Homo sapiens: one gene and its partners. The protein of the gene in region 2 binds, or shares a complex with, the protein of the main gene of each other region. Each region holds a gene or a part of one and is shown on either strand. Other genes may lie near its edges. A codon is read from its position in the direction of its gene.

The links. Proteins that work in one complex are often made in the same cells at the same time.
Region 1: the proteins of MED24 (region 2) and MED23 are in contact, whole or in part, in a cryo-EM structure (PDB 7EMF), measured with the Homo sapiens proteins. Residues at the interface, in NP_055630.2 of Homo sapiens: Lys238, Thr239, Leu280, Leu283, Lys287, Val291, Glu295, Cys336, Glu339, Phe340, Lys343, Leu344, Thr345, Pro346, Leu347, Asp349, Lys350, Gln353, Lys384, Glu720, Lys721, Trp723, Thr756, Arg757, Lys758, Glu759, His760, Met802, Asp803, Pro804; in NP_004821.2 of Homo sapiens: Asn150, Thr151, Val152, Ser153, Ser154, Glu193, Gly194, Leu196, Pro197, Trp199, Leu201, Gly202, Asn203, Ser206, Asp207, Asp210, Arg213, Tyr258, Asp259, Lys260, Phe263, Ser1133, Arg1139, Ser1176, Glu1180, Glu1182, Trp1183, Val1184, Tyr1186, Arg1189.
Region 3: the proteins of MED24 (region 2) and MED16 are in contact, whole or in part, in a cryo-EM structure (PDB 7EMF), measured with the Homo sapiens proteins. Residues at the interface, in NP_055630.2 of Homo sapiens: Ile539 (codon at 3,547), Leu540 (codon at 3,544), Asn541 (codon at 3,541), His544 (codon at 3,532), Pro545 (codon at 3,529), Glu593 (codon at 3,276), Arg629 (codon at 2,853), Met630 (codon at 2,850), Leu631 (codon at 2,847), Gly632 (codon at 2,844), Leu633 (codon at 2,841), Asp634 (codon at 2,838), Glu635 (codon at 2,835), Asp676, Gln679, Gln680, Thr681, Ala682, Pro702, Pro703, Lys704, Arg705, Pro706, Ile707, Lys708, Glu709, His737, Met738, Gly739, Gly740; in NP_005472.2 of Homo sapiens: His29, Cys30, Pro31, Ser32, Arg52, Asp54, Asp55, Gln56, Glu82, Asp102, Val126, Glu127, Gly128, Asp129, Pro130, Val184, Ser185, Leu187, Thr203, Glu204, Ser205, Cys207, Arg208, Leu209, Arg210, Gly211, Arg212, Asp232, Gly233, Ser234.

What each region holds. Positions count from the first base shown.
Region 1 is NC_000006.12:131,597,231-131,604,251, forward strand, and holds part of MED23 (mediator of RNA polymerase II transcription subunit 23), read right to left. Parts: coding exon 6,948-7,021; intron 5,975-6,947; coding exon 5,800-5,974; intron 5,152-5,799; coding exon 4,988-5,151; intron 2,933-4,987; coding exon 2,808-2,932; intron 2,281-2,807; coding exon of another isoform or gene 2,275-2,280; exon of another isoform or gene 2,237-2,274; intron 1,532-2,236; coding exon 1,326-1,531; intron 1,238-1,325; coding exon 1,057-1,237; intron 1-1,056. UniProt on the Homo sapiens protein: Required for transcriptional activation subsequent to the assembly of the pre-initiation complex. Component of the Mediator complex, a coactivator involved in the regulated transcription of nearly all RNA polymerase II-dependent genes.
Region 2 is NC_000017.11:40,023,404-40,030,424, forward strand, and holds part of MED24 (mediator of RNA polymerase II transcription subunit 24), read right to left. Parts: intron 6,457-7,021; coding exon 6,345-6,456; intron 5,566-6,344; coding exon 5,423-5,565; intron 4,544-5,422; coding exon 4,506-4,543; intron 4,243-4,505; exon of another isoform or gene 4,139-4,242; intron 4,063-4,138; coding exon 3,980-4,062; intron 3,632-3,979; coding exon 3,453-3,631; intron 3,344-3,452; coding exon 3,244-3,343; intron 3,007-3,243; exon of another isoform or gene 2,929-3,006; coding exon 2,753-2,928; intron 1-2,752. UniProt on the Homo sapiens protein: Component of the Mediator complex, a coactivator involved in the regulated transcription of nearly all RNA polymerase II-dependent genes.
Region 3 is NC_000019.10:869,176-876,196, forward strand, and holds part of MED16 (mediator of RNA polymerase II transcription subunit 16), read right to left. Parts: intron 6,280-7,021; coding exon 6,069-6,279; intron 4,408-6,068; coding exon 4,274-4,407; intron 2,944-4,273; coding exon 2,751-2,943; intron 2,079-2,750; coding exon 1,862-2,078; intron 1-1,861. UniProt on the Homo sapiens protein: Component of the Mediator complex, a coactivator involved in the regulated transcription of nearly all RNA polymerase II-dependent genes.

The sequences.
Region 1 (7,021 bases), on a different chromosome or scaffold from region 2:
CTTTCGGAGGCCGAGGCGGGCAGAACACGAGGTCAGGAGATTGAGCCCATCCTGGCTAACACGGTGAAACCCCATCTCTACTAAAAATACAAAAAATTAGCCGGGTGTGGTGGTGGGCACCTGTAGTCCCAGCTACTTGGGAGGCTGAGGCAGGATAATGGCGTGAACCCGGAAGGCAGAGCTTGCAGTGAGCCAACATCACGCCACTGCACTCCAGCCTGGGCGACAGAGAAAGACTCCATATCAAAAAAAAAAAAAAAAAAAAAAGAAAAAAAAAATTCTGCTGGAAATAGACATCAAAGTCAGGAGAAGAAAAAAACATTTGGGGAATGTTTGTTACCAAAGTGTACAGAAATGGTTATATTCGCACTCTGTAAAGAAACACAGTGACTTACTGCTACTTCCTCCCTCTAGTGGGAGTTTTGGAGAATCAACTCAGGGTCTAATTGCTCATATTTTCAAAGTATCACAAGGCTAGGACCACATCTATTTTATTTACTTCTGTACCTTCTATACATAGAACACAGTTGATATTCAATATGTACTTATTAAATGAATGAATAAGGAAATTGGGGCTGGAAGCAGTAGCTCACGCCTGTAATCCCAGCACTTTGGGAAGCTGAAGAGGGAGGATTGCTTCAGCCCAGGAGTTCGAGACCAGCCTGGGCAACATGGAGAAACCCCATCTCTATAAAAAAGTTAAAAAGAAAAAAAACTAGCTGGGTATGGTAGCATATGCCTGTACTCCCAGCTACTCAGGAGGCTGAGGCAGGAGGAGATTGCTTGAGACCAGGAGGTTGAGGCTGCAGTGAGCCATGATCACGCCACTGCACTGGGCGACAGAGCGAGACCCTGTCTCAAAAAACAAACAAAAAAACAAAAACAAACAAAAACAGAAATTGGAAAATTTCCGGCTCTTTAGGGAAGTGACAGCAATGCTTGATATAGTATAAATTCATTAAATCCTTCAAAGCAATATAGAGCAGATTGGCATAACATATATTAGTCATACATCTTGATCTAAGAGAATAAGCTTAGAAATGTATTTATTCTTACCAGGCAGAGAATTAATCTGTCCAGTGTAACAATGTTATACTTCCATACCATGTCATTAAGAATTTCAATGCATTTATTGAGTTGCTGACCCCCTGCTGATGTAGAAAACTCATATACCAGGAAATCTGCAAATGTCCTCACATGGGCTACCAAGGCCCTGGCTCCAATTCTCTCTAATACTCTGGAAGGCAGAGAGTAAAACATAAACTCCATTGTTGTATGGATACAACAATTTGCCAAATGGAATGCAAATTAGGTTTTTGACTTACCTATAGCCAATCTGATTAATATGATCTGTTTCCAAGAGCATTTTCCAGAGAAGACAAAGAAAGAGAGGAGGGGAGCCCTGCATAGAGAAGTGGGTAATAATGTCGTTTTCGTTGCTCATTGACTTCCACTTCCTATACTCCTCCTCCACATTTTTTTTCAGATTAAAACGGCTTTCCTGAGGCACATTATTTTGTTTGAAGAATGCCTAAAAAGAGGATTAGAAGTTTATTTCATTGGTTATAGTAGAAAGAGCACTGGATATGGAGTTAATAAACCAGTTCTAGACTTGATTCTGACACTAATAAACTCTAGGTCACCTTGAGCAACTCAGCAATTAAGGCCTGAATTTCTGTGTCTGGAAAATACATAAGCTTGACTAGATTATCTCCAAGATTCCTTTTCCTAGATTTCCTAAATGGAAATTCTAAGTAAGCCTGAATTCAAAGCTTCTTCAATCATCTGTTGATACTTCCGCCAATCTTAAAAAGAAAAAAAAGAATGAAGTGTCTCTACCCTTTGGCTACATATGTTAGTGTCTTTGAGGAAAATCCATTGCACTAGCCCAGTGATTCTCAGAGTGTGGTCCCAACACCAGCGGTATCAGCATCATCTGGGTCTTACAAGAAATGCAAAATTCTCAGACCTTATCCCAGATTTACTGAATCAGAAGCTCTGTGGCTGGGGGCCCAGCCAACTGCAGCTTAGCAAGCCCTCCAGGTGATTTGGTAAGTTTAAAAACCAAATGCTCTAGCCCTACCAGGAGTTATGAAAAATGGATGTTCATCATGCCTAACATTTTTTCTGAAAAGGAGAAGACAGATGAGGTTTGCCTTTCTCCTTATTAGAAAAGCCAGGTTTACAGTTTTTCTGTGATTAAGAAAAAAATTCAGTGAAGTGTCATATTACGCACACTCTGTGAAGCTCCATTACGTTATACTTCTCCCCATTTCAGTTCTATGAGAGAGAAAAAAGTTTTCAGGTACTATGTTAATTTTCATGAGATTCTAAAACCATTAACTATTTTTTTCTCTTTTTCAATTTTTTTCACTTTTATTTTTTTCCTCTTTCTACTCTTCCTCCCCTTAAAACTGTTAACTAAGATGAAACCATAATAATTAAATTTTTAGAAACATGTCCAGTACCAGAGTAGGACACAGAACAACTTGAGAGATTTTGTAAGTAATGACTTTTTTTTTTTTTTCTACAGACAGGGTCTGGCTCTGTCACCCAGGCTGTGGTACAGTGGTGTGACCATAGTTCCTTGTGAACCTGAATTCCTGGGCTCAAGCCATCCCCCTTGCCTCAGCCTCTCAAGCAGTTAAGACTAGAGGCTTGTGCCACCATGCCCAGCCCCTAAATATTTTTTAAAATAAATAAAAGCTAATTTTATTCAGAAGTCACCAAGACTCACTCTAGAACACCATTGTGAATGGGAAGAAGGATTTCATGTGCATTCAATAAGTAATTCAAGACCAAATTACCTGTAGTGGGCCTGGAAAACAGCTCAGGGTGTGTGAAGCCCAATTATGAGGAGTGAAACTCATGATGGTCTGAAGTATGTCTTTACACCAAGTTCCCTGAATTGAATCAGAGCCTGTAAAAAAATCTAAACATAAACAAATAGATGTAATCCAGATATAAATGATTATATCCACAATTCATAAAAGATTATAGCGAAAATAATAATTATGTACACTGAGAATTTCACTGCAGTGCATTCACTGCTTAACTAGTTATATTCAGCTTAGAACCTAAATTTGCTTAGTTTATGAATGATCTGGATGATCACATTAGAAAATATGAGAACAGTTTATGAAAAGATGACAAAAGACATTTGAAATCTCTTTTTTTGAGGTTACAGAGTACCAGCGATAACAGTAATACAAGCCCATCACTACTGTTCATTTACTTTGACACTGATTTAGTAGTACTTTATTCGGCCAAGGGAACAGAATAAAGAAAGATATCTTTTTTGGTGAGTGAAATAATTACATAATGCATGTATAAATCTCAGAATTGAAGAGGGTTCTTTATGTAAAACAAAATAATTTACATAAACGTATTTGAGGTTGCTAAAACCAATAACTATCTCTTTAAAACATCAGTTCTCAAGTGTGGTCTGTAGACCTCTTGGGGATTCCCCAATAGCCCTTCAAAGATTCAATGAGGTCAAATAATAATAAAAAGATATCAGGCTTTTTCACTTGGTATGAGCACTGACGGTACAAAAGCAATGGTGGTAAAACTGCTGGTCCTAAGCACAAATCAAACAGTGGTGCCAGACTAGATGAAAAGGCTTTGTATTCTCCAGCACATGCACTCAGTGAAAGAAAAGTGCCAGTGTCAATCTCGACACCTATTTTTAACATCATATGTAACAAAAGGGGAAGCATATGCCTAGTGTTCCAAGTTTGATGGGTGTCTTGAGGAAAAACACTTGTGCACTTGTGTGACTGACTGAGCACTGAGTTAAATCAGCTGCTTTTTTTTTTTTGAATTCCAATTTTACTTGAAAGAACGTCTGACAGAAAACTATAGCTAGCTAGACTTACGTATTTAGCAGACATTTTCTTGAAAATTAACAAAATGAGCTTGTCACTTTAAGGAAAACAAATGATAGTAACTTTTTCCAATGATAAAATTTGACCTTTCAAGTAAAAATTGAAATTTTGGAAAACCTGTATCTACCACGACATGATAGCATTCCAAAACTTAGATTTTTCTAATAAACTTTGCAGTGATATTAACAAATGTAATTTTCTGATACTGTATAAACAAAATGTCAACGTTTGCTAGATCTACGTAACTCAGTGAACCAGTATTTTCAAAATGAATAATTCATGAAGTTACAAAACATGCATGGATTTAAAAATCCACTAAATGTATAAAACAGATGTACAGATTATAATGTAACAAAGTACATGAAGTTTACTGGGGGTTTTGGATTCCATATTGCAGCTAACCTTTAAGCAACTATCATTTTTCCATGTGATGTCAAAGAACATTCCCAATTATCTGAAAAAGCTATTAAAATACTCCTCTCTTTCCAACCTCATCTGTGTGAGGCCACATTTTTCACTTACTTCAACTAAAACTTCAATGGATTAAATGTCTAAGCAGATGAGAATCCAAACTATGTCTTCCTTTACACCAGATATTAGAGAAGCAAAAATGTCAAACAATGGCACCTCTTCTCACTAAAGTTTTGCTTTAGAAAATATACTTTTTTTATAACATCATATATTAACATGTAATGTTTATTATTGCTATTTAAAAACAAATTAATAAATATTTTTAAACTTCTTAATTTTAATATCTAATATAATAAATATCCATAGATATAATCCATATAAACAGAAACTCTTTGGGAATTTCAATTTTGTTTTTAAGAGTGTAAAGCAGTCCTGAGACCAAAAAGCTTAAAGTATTACTACTTTAAAATTATGGATAGCTGAAAACGATGCTCAACGCAGTTATTAATAGAATGATGGTACACAAAAGAGCTTCCATAAATGAGTGAAATAGTGAAGATATCAAAACAACAGGCTTTTTTCAAACAAATGAAAAGTATCTTTTTAGTATGTTACAACTATAGTAATTAGTAGAATCATGGCACACTTTAATTCATCTGTTGTTGTTTGTAGTCACATATTCACCGTACCTGTTACATGAGTTGCTCTAGCCAAGGTCAATATCAAGGCTCGGTTCAGTTCTTCAGATTCTGCTGAGAGCACTGTTTTGGGATCACTAAGGAAGCGTGTAAACTGCGGTTGTACCTCTGAGCTACCTAATGCTGTTATAAGCCTGAGAGCAGTGCTCTCGACACTGAAAATTGGGAGAATAAAAAGAAATGTAAAAAAATTTCAGAATTATGGAATTAAATCTAAGGTTAATTACAATGGAAAAACATGCAATCTATGACTATCCCTTCTTTAAAAAAACACTTTTGTGTGAGAATAAATGTTGCTTAATTTGTTTAAAAAACCTAATGTGTCCAATTTTATAGTGAAAATCGTGACTTTTTACACATTTGAAAAAGATGGCTTGTCGCCTATAGGACTAAAAAATTTCACCTGGAGATACTGCATTTCAAAAATTATATTTTTCTATCTAAAATATATTTTAATGTAAAGCAAAATCAATGTGACATGATACTTTAACCATAATCTGAAGTATACTTAAAACCAGCATTCTAAAGGGCTAAGTTACAACATAATAATAAATACCCTGGAAGTACTAATTCTCAGTCCAAAGATCCTGAAGGAAGGACTCAACTATCTTAATCAGTTTCTATTTAAAAAGCTGGACTCTGCTCCTATACTGGAAACAAAATACTTTAGAAGCAGAGAAGTTTTATGACAGATGAATAATAATAAAAAAAAAAACTATAAGGTAAAGGTAAAGGATTAAGAACCTCATCTCCAAGAAAGTTTCTAATAAATCTTAAGGAAAGATGGTCTTCAATGAGCTCACCAAAGATGGAGCTGGTTCTGGTTTGTTTGTGCAACTGCAGCCAAAGTATGAAGATGACTCAGGAGCTGAACTCTGTAATGAGGCTGAATATGATGCATCCGGTAGCTAAACATCTCAAGGAGTGTGTGTAAGATCCCCCATGCATGTGATTTGAAAACAGTTGGCAAAAGCTGACCTGGAGGAAAAAGACAATTTAAGGTACCAATTATTAAAGGCTATGCATGAAAAGATATTTGAAGAAAGTCACATTGAGTAAAATATAAAGATTTGATTGTGAAAATACACACGCCCACACACATATATATTCTCCATATTTTCTTATTTTCTACTTTAACAGTAAGGAAAAATTCAGATCCTAACTATAATATCAAGTTTGCTTTTTTCCTGGGATTTGGCAATTGATAATCATGTTTATCTGGAAAAATAAAATGAGACAAGATATGAAAAAACATTAATCTTCTCAATTCTGATATCTTTTATTTTTAGACAATTAATGTTCCATACCTTTTGAAGTATGAGGTTCACTTTTTAATACAAAAAATTGTATTATACCTGCCCTTGTTTCCTCCTACCCCCAAGAAAGTTTTGTTCAACAATCAGTTATCTAAGAAGAGTTATTGTGGTTAAAATTAAGACTATGCTGTATTCGTGAAAAGCTGGAATTACCATGAATCAGAAAAACACTTCTATATCAGAAAGTATCTATTATTTTAGAACTATATAATAAATGAGACATTATAATGTATCTTCTGCAAGGTAGGAAAATTCCTTCTTTATTTCCAGTCAGACTTCGTATGCACTGGAGGACAGCATTGCTGCCTCAGGCAGAATCCATTTGCATGAGGACAGGGACCAGGTCTATCCTGCTCACTGCATCCCAGGCACCTAGCACATTAACCTTTTCTTACCACTTTACTTAAAAATGCAACAAACCCCCCAACCCTCACACTTCCTATTCCTTTTTGCTTTATTTTTCTCTATAACATGTATCATCTGACATATTGTATATTTCATTTATTTAATGTCCTCCTCCATAAGCTCCATCATGGTGGTGACTTGTTCTCTGCTGTGTCCCCAGGACCTAGAAAAGTAACTTTAGAGTTAATGAATGGGTTAATAGTTATAAACACCAGAAAGTCCTGTCTTACTGATAAATCCTTTGATGCCCAAAGACTCTATTTCCATATAGACCAATAAACGACTGTAAGTTTCCACTAGGGCT
Region 2 (7,021 bases):
GGGCCGAGAGAACCTGAGGCTCAGGTGCCACTGTAGGGTGGGGAGGGAGAGGAGGGAACACCCATGCCAGACTTTCCCTTGGACTTAGGTTACGGAAATCTCCCTGAGGCATTAACCCAGTTTTGCGCTGGGGGACGGTATACCCCGGGGTGACCTGGCCCCTGCTCTGCTCCTGGCAGGTCTCTCACCTGCAGGACACAAAGCCTATAAATAGGGACTGGGGAGGGACTTTCCTCCCCCTGGCCATTCCAGCCAGATATTCACATTTTCTTTTATTCTCCAACTTCCCCCATCCCCCAGGCCTGGGCCCTGCCAACCTGCCACATAAATAAACACAATCACTTCCCCCTAGGCTGAGTGCTTGGGGGTCCCCGCCCAGCCCTGGCCTCCTCCCAAAGTAAACTGTTCCTTCCAGGAGAGGCCCAAGGGCTGCCCCACAGGACTCTTCCCGGCCCCTGGTAGCTGGGCAGATAGAAGTGTATATCCAGGAATTTTCTCATGGAAAGAGGCTTCGGAAGTGAATACAGACCCGGGCCGAGTGCTGACTGTTCCTGGAATGCAGGGTGGCTCTGGGAAAGTTGCTATGACCTTTAGAGCCACTTTTCCCACCTGCACAATGGAGCCACAGACTTCTCACTACCCCTTACCCAGATAGGATTTAGGGTGCTTAGAATGGGTTACACCAGAGCAAAAGCTCCCTACTTGGTAGGGCGGGGGGGAAGGTGGTGGAGAAATGAGAGAAGAAAGGAAAAAAGGAGGAGGCAAGGGGAAAACGAGATGTGCTTTTCCAGACCGTCCAAACCTCATTCAGCTCAATGCTTCCCCTTCTCCCTATTAAGACATCCTCAGGCCCGGTGCGGTGGCTCATGCCTATAATCCCAGCACTTCAGGAGGCTGAGGCGGGAAGATCACCTGAAATCAGGAGTTCGAGACCAGCCTGGCCAACATGGTGAAACCCCATCTCTACCAAAAATACAAAAATTAGCCGGGTGTGGTGGCACATGCCTGTAATCCCGGCTACTCGGGAGGCTGAGGCAGGAGAATCTCTTGAACCCAGGAGGCGGAGATTGCAGTGAGCCTAGATAGTGCCACAGCACTCCAGCCTGGGTGACAGAGCGAAACGCCGTCTCAAAAATAAGTACATAAATAAATAAATAAAGACATCCTCAACGTTGCCATAAAGACATGGCAACACCCAAAACGTATTAGCTGGTAAACACCCATGTTCACAGCAGCACTATTCACTATAGCCCAAAGGTGGAAGCAACTGAAGTGTCCACTGACAGAGGAGGGATCAAGATGTGGTATAGCCACACAATAGAGGTTTCTTTTGTTTTTGTTTTGTTTTTTGAGACAGAGTCTCACTCTTTCACCCAGGCTGGAGTGCAGTGGCGTGATCTCGGCTCACTGCAACCTCCGCTTCCTGGGTTCAAGCAATTCTCCTGTCTCAGCCTCCCAAGTAGCTGGGATTGCAGGCGCCTGCCACCACTCCCTGCTCATTTTTATATTTTTAGTAAGGCCAAGGTTTCACCATGTTGGTCAGGCTGGCCTTAAACTCCTGACCTCAAGTGAGCCACTCACCTCAGCCTCCCAAAGTGCTAGGATTGCAGGCGTGAGCCACCACGCCCGGCCCACAACAGAGTATTATTCAGCCTTAAAAAGGAAGGAATTCCTGTCACGTGCTACTACATGGATGAGCTTTGAGGACACCATGCTGAGTGAAGTCAGTGAGTCACGAAAAGGCAAGGACTGTATGATTCCAGTTAAATGAGGCATCTAAAAAGTAGTCAAATTCAGCAGGGCACGGTGGGTCACGCCTGTAATCCCAGCACTTTGGGAGACCACGGTGAGAGGATCACTCAAGGCCAGGAGTTCAAGACCTGGCAATATAGTGAGACCCTGTCTCTACAAAGACTAGAAAAATTAGCCGGCTGTGGGCCTGCAGTCCCAGCTACTCGGGAGGCTGAGGCGAGAGGATCACTTGAGCCCAGGAATTTGAGGTTGCAGTGAGACTCACTCTGATCTGGGCAAGGGTAAGACCTTGTCTCAACAACAACAACAACAAAAAGTATAAAGTAGTCAAATTCCTAGACACACAAAGTAAAATGGTAGTTACCAGGAGCTGGAGGGAGGGGAAAATAGGAAGCTGTTGTTCAGTGGGTATGGAGTTTCAGAGATGCAAGAAAGTTCTGGAGACCTGTTACACAACAGTGTGAATATACTTAACACTACTGAACAGTACACTTAAACATGGCTAAGATGGCAAATCTTATGTGTTTTTTACAATTAAAAAAAGCAAACAACTTATTGGTTGGGTGAATGAACTCAACGTAACTGGTCACCAGGGAAGTCCTCCAAGCCCCTGAAGAGCCAGGGCAGGAAACTGTCCTAAGAGGTAACTGAGGGTGGGGCATGGCCTGTAAAATCTACAGACAGGTTCCTAGCTCCTAGACAGTCACACAGCTTTGTTCTTTTGGGAGCTAGTTGTCTAGAACTTGAGTCTCTGCGGGCAGACCCTGTTTAGGGTCTGCATTTCTGACAACACAGCAGGTGCTGGCATATAAACGCTTCTGCCACAGAGACACAGTACATGTTTGCTGAGTCAGATGAGTGAATGCATGAATAGGAAAGTGAGTGAGTGATCAAGTAGCGTGTTTGCGAAGGTCAGAAAAGAGAGGGGTGCTTGTTATTGGATGTGCTGACTTCTCACAACACACTTGAAGGGTCTGAGAAGGGAAGGCAGGTTACCGACCTCTCATTGTAGAACTGCAGGGTGTTCTCACTAAACAGTGGCCCTGCCAGCTGGCGGATCATCTGCAGCGACTTCTCACGCTCATCCAGCCCCAGCATCCGGACGTGGGCCACAAGCCAAGCCACAGCACACACCGCCAGACTGCATACCTTCCCTTTGATGTTATCAGTGATTTTCTAGGGGAGACGGAAAGGTGATGGGCTACCATCTATCTCCCTTTCTTGAGCCAACATCACCTTCTCAGCCTCTGCGGGCAGCTAAGTGCAGCGGGTGGAGTCCCGGGCCACATTCCACACCTCTCTCCACAAGTTTGATCTTCCCAGAGCTACCTGGGCCAGAGGGAGTAGCTAAGACAACGATTACACAAAATATCAATATCAAAACATGAGCTCCTGGATTAAAGGTCTTCTTGCCCTTACGAAATATAACAAGTCATCACTGGCTGGCTCTGTGTCTCAGGGGAGCAAACGCTGCTGGGAAGGCGGGGCTACCTGGATGGACTCGAAGGCCAGGACCCCATTCTCCCAGGCATTGAGGATTTCCAAGATGGCGGCTGAGATGCTGAGACAGGCCTCATGCCACTTCATCTGCCTGCGGGTGTGCAGAGAAGTCAGCACAGGGGAGCAAGGAACGGGCTCAGGGAGCGGGTCTTGACCCTGCCCCCACCGCCACCCTTGGAGTGGGCGCCCGGGCCACTGACACTAGCTTCATCTCCGAGGAGTTGTTGAGCAGGGCCACCAGGGACTCCACTTTGGTGGAGTCGGGGCGGAAGCAGGGGTGGTCAGGGTTCAGGATCTTGCCCTCCTCAGGCATGCAGGTCTGCATCCAGGTCTCGAAGAAGGGCACCTCAGCTCCTGTGCGCGACTCGGACAGAATCACCTGGGAAAGGGGAAGGGGGGCACCAGCCGAGTGGGGAGGGCGCGGCGCCTGCCAGCGCTGGACCTGGGGCTGCACTGTTTCCCGCCAGGCTGCTGCTCCAGCCCAGCCCAAAGACTGGGGACGAACTGGTCTAAGGGAGCCAGACGGGGGCAATGCTGCCACCTAGTGGTCAATGTGAACATAGGGCTGAAGGTGCCTCTACGGACTCCAGCCCGGGTGGGCACCTGGTTTCTGAGGCCCACAGAACTAACTGGCTGAGAGGCTGCGGGGGCGCAGGCAGTGAGGTGGGGAGAGTTCCGGGTTACCTCCTTCCCTTGAGCCCCCGTCCCGGTCGCTCCCCTCTCTCACCTCTGAACCATAGGTCTGGGCCACATGGCACAGCATGAGGAAGGAGATGTCAAACAGCAGGGCCCGGACGGAGGCCGGTTTGGCTGTGGAAGGACGGGAAGGCTGAGCTCCCAGACGAGGGCAGGGGGGAGCCCGTGTCTGGGTTGACAGGGATCGGGATTTGCCTCTAGGAAGGTCAGGGACCAAGTGGCTCCTTCAAAGCTCTGAGGCTCAGAATCCTTTTCTTGAGTCTCAACTGGAACATCATCCCTTCCTTGAGACCAAAGACCCCCAGCACCCTCTCCTGGCATACCTAACCAAGTCGTAAAGGGATGAGGGGGGGAAGGAGACACAGGGATGGTCTGGGAAGAATCCTTTTCCAGCATTATCCACTTTCAAGCTCTGTGGAAGCTTCCATTGGTCATGGCTCTGAGGAGGGAGCACAGCCTCCCCCTGTTGAGCTGGGGAGCCCTCCTCCCTCCCACACTCTCCCGCCACACCCCTCCTCAGGGCCCACTGGGCCTGCGGATGCACAGGGCTGACTTACTGCTTTCTTCGCTGCCATAGGTTGTGAATTCATTCAAACTGAAAGGAATGGAGACAGGCTGCATTGACCAGGGCATGAGCTGAGCAGTAGCTGGGCGCTGGGGCTACACATGTTCAGAGAGCGATAGCTAGAGTCTGAGTTACTGGTTAAACTTAAAATGAGACACATTGCTATAGAAAAAAGGTTTTTGTGGTTTTTGTTTTTTGTTTTTTTTTTGTTTTTTTTGAGAAAGAGTCTCGCTCTGTCACCCAGGCTGGAGTGCAGTGGCACAATCTCAGCTCACTGCAACCTCCGCCTCTGTTCAAGCAATTCTTCTGCCTCAGTCTCCCAAGTAGCTGGGATTACAGGTGCCCGCCACCACACCCGGCTAATTTTTTGTATTTTTAGTAGAGACAGGGTTTCACCAAGTTGGCCAGGCCGGTCTTGAACTCCTGACCTCAGGTGATCCGCCCACCTTGGCCTCCCTAAGTGCTAGGATTACAGGCGTGAGCCACCGCACCCGGCCAGAAGGATTTTTATTGTTAGAAGATTTCCAAGGCCTAGAGAATGGCTCACTGAATGGAACCATGTTCTATATATGTCAAATTCCAGGGCAATCAAAAAAGGCAACAGAATTTGAGAGCCCCTTATTAATAACTGGGCATACTTGGAATTCCTCCATGCCCAATGTTCAACACCTCAACCCTTACCCTCATCTCTTTACCAAACATGTCCACTCCATCCTCAGCTGAAGAGAAAGGAACACTTAGGTCGTGAGAACAGGCCCTTCCTCCAAGATCTCCAGCCAGGATGCTCTGCCTAGGCCCGTGGGTCTCTGGATGAGACCCAGACCCAGGCACCTGACTCCTACCCTGCTACCTCCTCCCAACGCGCAGCCTCCCTGCACGCCCTGGGGTCAGGGGCTTGGCCTTCCTCACTTGATGAATTTCCGGGCGAAGGATTTCAGCTTTCCAGTGGCGGCGGCGGCAGCCAGCAGCAAGTCCAGACTCTTCCCGGACAGCATGTGGCCCAGGACTCCCAGCAGTCCCTCCGGTGACTTAGAGTGGTCTGCATCCATCGTCTGGGGACAGGACAGGAAATCAAGTCCTGAAGAACACTGAAGACCCCCCACCCAAGATACAGCCTAGCCACATTTTCTCTCTTCACAACCTGGAATGTAATCTACATCTTTCTGACTTCAATCTGGAAAATCATTCCTAAAACCCACCCCTGCTCTCCGATCCATCCCTCTCATCTACACTGGCATGCAGGTGGTAAGGTTGGAGTGGGCAAGGTCACGGCTAGGATCTTCTCTGTCCTTTCCTTTTTTAGACAGAGTCTCGCTCTATCGCTGAGGCTGGAGTGCAGTGGTGCGATCTTGGCTCACTGCAACCTCTGCCCCCCAGGGTTCAGCGATTCTCCTGCCTCAGCCTCCCAAGTAACTGGGATTACAGGCATGCACCACCACACCCAGTGAATTTTGTGTTTTTAGTAGAGACTGGGTTTCACCACGCTGGCCAAGCTGGTCTCAAACTCCTGACCTCAAGGGATCTTCCCACCTCAGCCTCCCAAAATGCTGGGATTACAGGCGTGAGCCACCGCACCCACGTCTCTGTTGTTTCCATGTGAGATGGCCTAAGTGAAAGCGCCTACTGCAGTGCCTGGTGTACAAATGAAGCTCCCACGGGTTAGCATTCAGTGGTAGCTGCCCTTGCCTCCCCTTTCACTACCTCCAAAGCAACTATGTATAAAAGCTAAAGGAGACAGAGGTCTGTGGCCTCTGTTTATTTATCTGCAAGCAGATGGAGCACTGGAAAGAAGAAAGAGAAGACTGTGGTGGCCAGGGAAGGGCACACTCACCTTGAGGATGTTTGTGACAGTGGGCTCCGCCCGGAGGATCAGCTGGATGTTGGGCTGGATGTTGGCATTCTCTCCCGATTTCTGCTGGGGTGCGTGCTCTCGGTCCGCTTTGCTGTGGACATCACCAGTTGGCCAAGGAAGGGAAGAGGAATGAAGAGAAATTCTTGACACGTTCCCTCGTTCAAGCCCGGAAGGAAATGCGCAGAGGAGGTGGGAAGCATGTAAGAACCTCCGAGGTTGGGGTGAAGTTTATGGAAGCATAGTCAATGTTGCAATCACTGATTTAGCATTAGTCTTTTTTTTTGAGACAGGTCTCACTCTGTTGCCCAGGCTGGAGTACAGTGGCACGATCTCGGCTCACTGCAGCCTCTGCCTCCAGAGTAGCTGGGCGCTCACCACCACGCCTGGCTACTTTTTTGTATTTTTAGTAGAGACGGGGTTTCACCATGTTCTACTGGTCTCAAACTCCTGACCTCAGGTGATCCACCCACCTTGGCTTCCCAAAGTCCTGGGATTACAGGTGAGCCAGCACACCTGGCAATTTATCATTAGTCTTTTTTTTTTTTGAGACAGAGTCTCGCTCTGTCACCCAGGCTGGAATGCAGTGGCGCGATCTCAGCTCAGTACAACCTCTGCTTTCCGGGTTCAAGTGATTCTCCTGCCTCAGCCTCCTGAGT
Region 3 (7,021 bases), on a different chromosome or scaffold from region 2:
TGGGGAGCTTGAGGCTTAGAGACCCAGTAAAGGGGACGGGGCCCACACAGGGACGAGGGTCGGTCCGCCACGTGCCCGGGGAGCCTGAGGTGCAGGGAAGGTGCTTGTGACGCTCCCATTTGAGGCTGGACAGAAGCAGGTACATGGGGACTTCCACACCACCTCTGCCCAGACACCCGGCCTGGAGGTGCCGGGACCTCTGAACGACAAGATTCTGGTGGCAAAAGCTGCCCTCGGTGGTGGGTGGGGGACCTGGGTCTGGGTGGGGGTGGGCCGGCTTATTCTGCTCTCATTAAATATCTGAAATTTTCCCAGTTTACAAGCCTCTGACGTAACCGTCCTCTCTTTCCATCAAGTCTTTTCCTGAAACCCAAACCCTCGTGTGTGACTCATTAGGAGGCCCCTCCCACAGTGAGCACGAGGAAGAAAATGCTGGAGGTCCTAGAGCCAAGCCAGGGCGCCTTCCCGGAGGTCCCGGAGCCAAGCCGGGGGTGCCTTCCCTGGAGGTCCTGGAGCCGAGCCGGGGCCTTCCCCGGAGCAGGGCTGCTGGAGGTTCACTTCATTTTCTTCCTTTTGCTCATCTGTGTTTTCTAAAATTCCAGCCCTGAGCAATCAGTGGCTCAGAGGGTTTGCATGTGCTCCTTGTCAAACGTGTGTCTGAAACAGGCTGGGGGTCTGACGGGCCTGGGTTCAAATCCTGACTCGGCCACTTCCTGACCGCGTGACCCCAGATGAGTGGGGTGACAAGGTCCCACCCTTTCCAGGCTGGGTTTCCTCACCGTGAAATGGGGTGACAAGGTCCCACCTCACAGGGCTGCTGGGCAGCCAGGGTCAGCTCAGCACACTTGGGTTGCCCAAACCCCGCACATTCCAGAGAAAGGCCAGCCCCGGGCCCTGCAAGGTGACCTCTTGCCCCCGGGAGATCCTCCTGATGAGGTGTCTGCTCAGCAGGGCCCTGGGCCATATGCTAAGGCGTCTCTCTCCATCCACAGAGGGATCTACGGCGAGGCCTGACATCCAGGGGGGCCAGAGACTAAGGGCAGAGGCTAAGGCAGGGCGCCCTGTACAGCGAGGCCAACACACAATCAGGAAACACCAAGGCAAGGCCGGGGCGGTGGCTCACACCTGTAATCCCAGCACTTTGGGAGGGCGAGGCAGGTGGATCACCTGAGGTCAGGAGTTCAAGACCAGCCTGGCCAACATTGCAAAACCGCCTCTATACCAAAAATACAAAAAATACCTAGGTGTGGTGGCTCATGCCTGTAATCCCAGCTACTGGGAAGGCTGAGGTAGGAGAATCATTTGAACCCGAGAGGCAGACGTTGCAGTGGGCCAAGACGGCACTACTGCACTCCAGCCTGGGCAACAGAGTGAGACCCTGTCGGGGAGACAAAAAAAAAAAAAAAAAGGGAGAGGGTGAATGGAAGGGCTGGGTGCCCGTGTTGGGGGTGGTTCGTGACACAGCAGAAGACACCACTAGGGGATGGAGTTAGGGGCACCTAGAAGGAAGCAGCAGTCATGGCCATGACTGGAGAACATGGAGGGAAGGAGCCGTATGGATTCGGGGGGGTCCTGGGGCAGGACATGGAGGGAGGGAGCCGTGTGGATTCGGGGGGACCCGGGGCAGGACATGGAGGGAGGGAGCCGTGTGGATTCGGGGGGTCCCGGGGCAGGACATGGAGGGAGGGAGCCGTGTGGATTCGGGGGGTCCCGGGCAGGACATGGAGGCGGGGAGCCGTGTGGATTCGGGGGGACCTGGGGCAGGACATGCAGGGAGGGAGCCGTGTGGATTCGGGGGTCCCGGGGCAGGACACGGAGGAAGGAGTCCTGTGTTTGGGGACCAATGCAGGGACACACGCACCTGGCGAGGCCGTCGAGCTGCAGGGTGGCAGCACTGCCAGGCAGCGTGGGCGCCCGGCCAAACTGCAGACGAAGGGGCTGCTTGGGCTGCAGGCGGCTAACCAGGCCGTCGCTGGCTGGCAGCCAGTCCAGGCTGGGGATAAGCAGCTGGCTGGGCAGCAGGCAGCATTCATCCACCAGCGCCTCGTCCGGCTCGCTCGCTGGGCCCTCATCGCGACCTGCGGAGAGAGGTGGCGGAAGTCTCAGCACCCCTGACTGGGGCACCGCCCGGCCACCCGGGACGTGCTGGGAGCCCCTCCAGTTCAGGAGCACCAGGTCAGGGCCCCAGCTCTGTCTGCCTGGCTGGGTGACCCCGGGGTTCTCTCACCAGGTCGGGGCCCCGGCTCTGCCTGCCTGGCTGGGTGACCCCAGAGTTCTCTCCCCGTCTCTGGCCTGTCATGAGACTCCCTCATTCACTTAAAAAGTATGTGGGAAGCACTGTGCCTTTTCCAGACACTGGGATGTAAGAATGACACAGCTCACCCTCCTCACATACACACAACCCGACAAGGAGAGACAGCAAACAGGTGCCTGGAAGTGGCTGCCATCCCAAAAGCACCCACACAGAGCATGGACCTGTGCTAGGAACTGGGGAAATAGCAGATATCAAGGCAGAGCCACTGCCACCTGCAGGGGCTTATGTTCTGGCGGGGGGCTCAGGCAGGACTTGTGTTTTGGTAGGGAGAGGGGAGCGGGGAGAGGGGAGAGGGGAGAGCGGGGAGAAGGGAGAGCGGGGAGAGGGGAGAGCGGGGAGAGGGGAGAGCGGGGAGAGGGGAGAGCGGGGAGCGGGGAGCGGGGAGAGGGGAGAGCGGGGAGCGGGGAGAGGGGAGGGGCGGGCGGGGGTGCCTCACAGCAGATCCAGAGCTTGGTGAGCAGGCGGAAGAGCAGGGACATGCTGTCCTGGGTATCCGAGGTGGCCGTATACACGGGCAGGCAGCTGGGCTTCAGAAGGCCCCAGATGCGGATGACCACCATCAATTCCCGAAGCATGCCCAGCGAGGTGCCGTCCCGCAGAAAGCTGTGGCCCGGCCTCAGCAGGGAACCCTGCCCGAAAGAGGCATCGGTGTGGCTGGGGCGGCGGGGGGCAGATGGCGATGGGATGAAGTGTCTTGGGGTCGGTGGAACCCCGACCGGGGGGCAATGGGCAGGGTCTGGGACATTTGTGGTGGTCAGGACTGGGGTGCTTCTGGCACCGAGTGGGTGGATGCCGGGGACGCTGCTCAGAGCCCTGCAGGGCCCAGGACAGCCCCATTTGCAGAGTCGTCCCATCCCTGAGAGTCCACAAGACTAAGACGAGGCTCTGGCTGAGGCCAATATCCCCACCTGCACGTGGAGGAGCAGCCGCCCCCTCCTACAGCTGCGGGCCCGGGCCCCTGGTGACTGTACTGGGAGCTGAGAGGACCAGGGAAGGGAGGCCCCAGGGGTGGCCCCTGGCAGCCTAAAGCCCCACAAAAAGAAGAGAGGGACTTCAAACCGTCCGTGATGGGCGCGGTGGAGAAGGGCGGGCCCCAGGGCAGGATGAAGCCGGGTGGGTGGGGCAGAAGAAATCACAGCTGGGGCAGGACAGAGTGTACCGGCGGGGGGGTGGGGGCGAGGTTGGAGCCCTGGTCAGGGGCGCACAAGCCGCAGAACTGAAGGTGGAGGTGTGGATGGAGACTTGATTTCAAGGCCGCCCACCCCAGGCGCAGGGAGCTGGGGAGGGTAAGGGGTGGGGGCAGCAGCAGCAGAAGCAAGGCGAACCGGCCTTCGTGTAGGGGTGGGGCTGAGAAGGAGCAGGGCCTGGGAGGCGGGGCTTTGAGAATGGGCAGGAAGGGTGTGGCCAAGGAAAGGCTTCTTACAGCAGAGGCTTCATGGAGAGGAGGGCTCCGAGGTGGGGGAGGGCTCCGAGGTGGGGCAGGGCTCCGAGGTGGGGGAGGGCTCCGAGGTGGGGGAGGGCTCCGAGGTGGGGCAGGGCTCCGAGGTGGGGCAGGGCTCCGAGGTGGGGCAGGGCTCCGAGGTGGGGGAGGGCTCCGAGGTGGGGGAGGGCTCCGAGGTGGGGCAGGGCTCCGAGATGGGGCAGGGCTCCGAGGTGGGGCAGGGCTAGGAAGTGGGGCAGGGCTAGGAAGTGGGGCAGGGCTAGGAAGTGGGGGTTTAAGAAGAGACAGACTCAGGAAGTGGGACTCCAAGTAGGGGTGGGACTCCAACCAGGGGCGGGGCTGAGGTGGGACTCCAAGCAGGGGCGGGACTCCAAGTAGGGGCGGGACTCCAAGTAGGGGCGGGACTCCAACTAGGGGCGGGGCTGAGGTGGTTTTGAGGGGCAGGGGCAGGGAAGCGGGGTCCTGATGAGATGGGGGCCCAGGTGGGGGGCGGGGCCTTAGGGGAGAGCATGGCGCACCTGGTTGGGTAGGCTGGCCAGCAGGTACAGCACGAAGTCGCCCACCCACTGCAAGAGCTGCTGCAGCGCCTGCAGTGTGTTCATGTCCAGCACAAATTCCTCCGTCTTGAGGTTGATCATGACCTTGTCAATGTCTACAAGGAGACGTGGGTCGGGTCAGCTCGGGCCTCTTGTACACACAGGGTGACCTAACTGCACCCCTCGGTCCTTCGACCTGCACTGAGTGCCCACCCAGTACCAGGACACAAGGGGACCCACACCGGGAACGAGAAGGGGGCGATGGCGTTGCCGGACGGAGAGGAACTGGGAGCCCACTGCCTGCCCCCCCCCGGGGGCCGCTGTGCTCAGCACCAACCAGCTTCTCTCGGCCTGCAGGCCTTGGCGTGGGCAGGTCCCCATGCCAGGGCCACCAGTGCTCAGGCCCGGCCTGCTGGTGCACATCTGCCCCCTGCTCCGAGGTGAACTCTGTGAACACAGGGGCATGTCCACAGCGTGCAGCTGCAGCCACCCCCGGCTGGCAGCTGGCGGCGGTTACACACCCAACAGATGCCTCTCGGATGGTGACTAGGGTGGTCCCACAGAACTAACCATGACTGTGCACACGGCTCCCAGCTACCAGGAGTGCCACGTGTCCACACTCAACCGGGTACTCCAGACAAACGATAACCCTAAATTTTTTTTTTGAGACAGAGTCTCACTCTGTCGCCCAGGCTGGAGTGCAGTGGGGTGATCTCAGCTCACTGCAAGCTCCGCCTCCCGGGTTCACGCCATTCTCCTGCCTCAGCCTCCCGAGTAGCTGGGACTACAGGCGCCCGCCACCACGCCCGGCTGATTTTTGTATTTTTAGTAGAGACGGGGTTTCACCGTGTTAGCCAGGATGATCTCGATCTCCTGACCTCGTGATCAGCCCGCGTTGGCCTCCCAAAGTGCTGGGATTACACACGAGTCGCCACGCCCAGCAACCCTAATTTTTAAAAGAAACAGCCTGCCAGGCACAGTGGCTCACGCCTGTAATCCCAGCGCTTTGGGAGGCAGAGGCGAGTAGGACACCACGTGCTGGGTGAGCCTGGGCAAGCTGCTTAGCCTTTCTGCCTCAGTCCCCTTACGGCAAAACGGAAGGAGGAGCAGACCTGCCTGCACAGGACCCGGGTGCCGGGTGTCGGCCTGGGAGCGTCTCAGCCCCCAGGAGTAGAGAGAGGTGAAAGGATCGCTTGAGCTCAGGTGGTCAAGACCAGCCTGGGCAACACAGTGAGACCCTGTTGCTACAAAAAATTAAAAACCGGGTGTGGTGGCACGTGTCTGTAATCCCAGCTACTCCAGAGGCTGAGGCGAGATTGCTTGAGCCCAGAAGGCAGAGGCTGCGCTGAGCTGGGACTGCGTCACCGTGCTGCAACCTGGATGACACAGTGAGACCGTCTCTAAAAGCCTGGGTGTGGTGTAATCCCAGCCTTTAGGCTATATCCCAGCACTTTAGGAGGCCGAGGCGGGCGGATCATTTGAGGTCAAGAGTTCGAGACCAGCCTGGCCAACATGGTGAAACCCCGTCTCTACTAAAAATACAAAAAATCAGCCGGGCGTGGTGGCACGTGCCTGTAATCCCAGCTACTTGGGAGGCTGAGGCAGGAGAATCACTTGAACCAGAGAGGCGGAGGCTGCAGTGAGCTGAGATCGCACCACTGCACTCCAGCCTGGGCAACAGAGTAAGACCCTATCTCAAAAGAGTAAAAAAAATAAATAAAAATAAAATAAATAGATGAAAGAAACCTCGAGGCCCCGGGCGTGGAAAAGGACCCACCGACGTCGGTGATCTTGGTGCAGATCTCGGTCAGCCGGTCGCCGGGGCTCTTGTCAGGCGTGTTGAGAAAGTGGGGGCGCAGCAGCGACTTCAGGGTGGAGCTGATGGCGATGAGGAAGAGCTTGGTGTGGTAGTCGCACACGCGGGTCACCGTGCAGGGCGACAGCTTGCAGAGCGAGGCCTTCATGGCCAGGATCCGGGTGGAGAGGACCTGAGGGCAGGAAGCCAGGTCACCCCAAGGGGCCGGAGCAGAGGCGCCCGCCAAGGCTCCAGCTGAGGAGAAGAGCAGTTCGACTCTGACACCAGGCGCTCGGTCAGCTGGGCAAGCTGCTTCGCCTCTGCACCTCAGCAACCTCATGGCAAAACAGGTGCGGAAGACCAGGCGCACAGGACCAGGTGCTGGGTTCTCAGCTGGGAGCGGCTCTGCCTCTGGTGGGGGCCCCTGGTGATGTCTGGAGATATTTTTAGTTGTCACCACTGGGGGTGCCCCTGCCAAGTAACGGGTGGAGGCTGGGGAGGCTGCTCAACAGGACACCCCCATCCCAGAGGCTGCTCCAGCCCCCGATGTCTGTGGTGCCTACGGGGAGACCCTGGTCTAGAGAGAATGAATGAATGAGCTGAAGCATTTTGGGAGGCTGAGGCTGGAGGATTCCTGGAGGCTGGGAGTTGGAGAGCCTGTGCAACGTAGGACACCCCATCTCTACAAAAAATAGAAACAACTAAAAACAAAAATGAAACGCTTGGCACACAGCGACGGCCCAAGGAGGGAGAGGGCGAGGTCTCGCCATCACTAGCGCTGTCACTGGCTACGGATCCCAGCCACGCTGGGGTTTAGCCTCGCAGCCCCCGCCTGGGTCTCACGCGTTTCTCGGCAGGCTGTGCCGTGAATGGGATTTTTTTTTTCCCATTTTATCTTCGTATTGGTTTCTGATGGCACAGAGGAAAACAAGTGA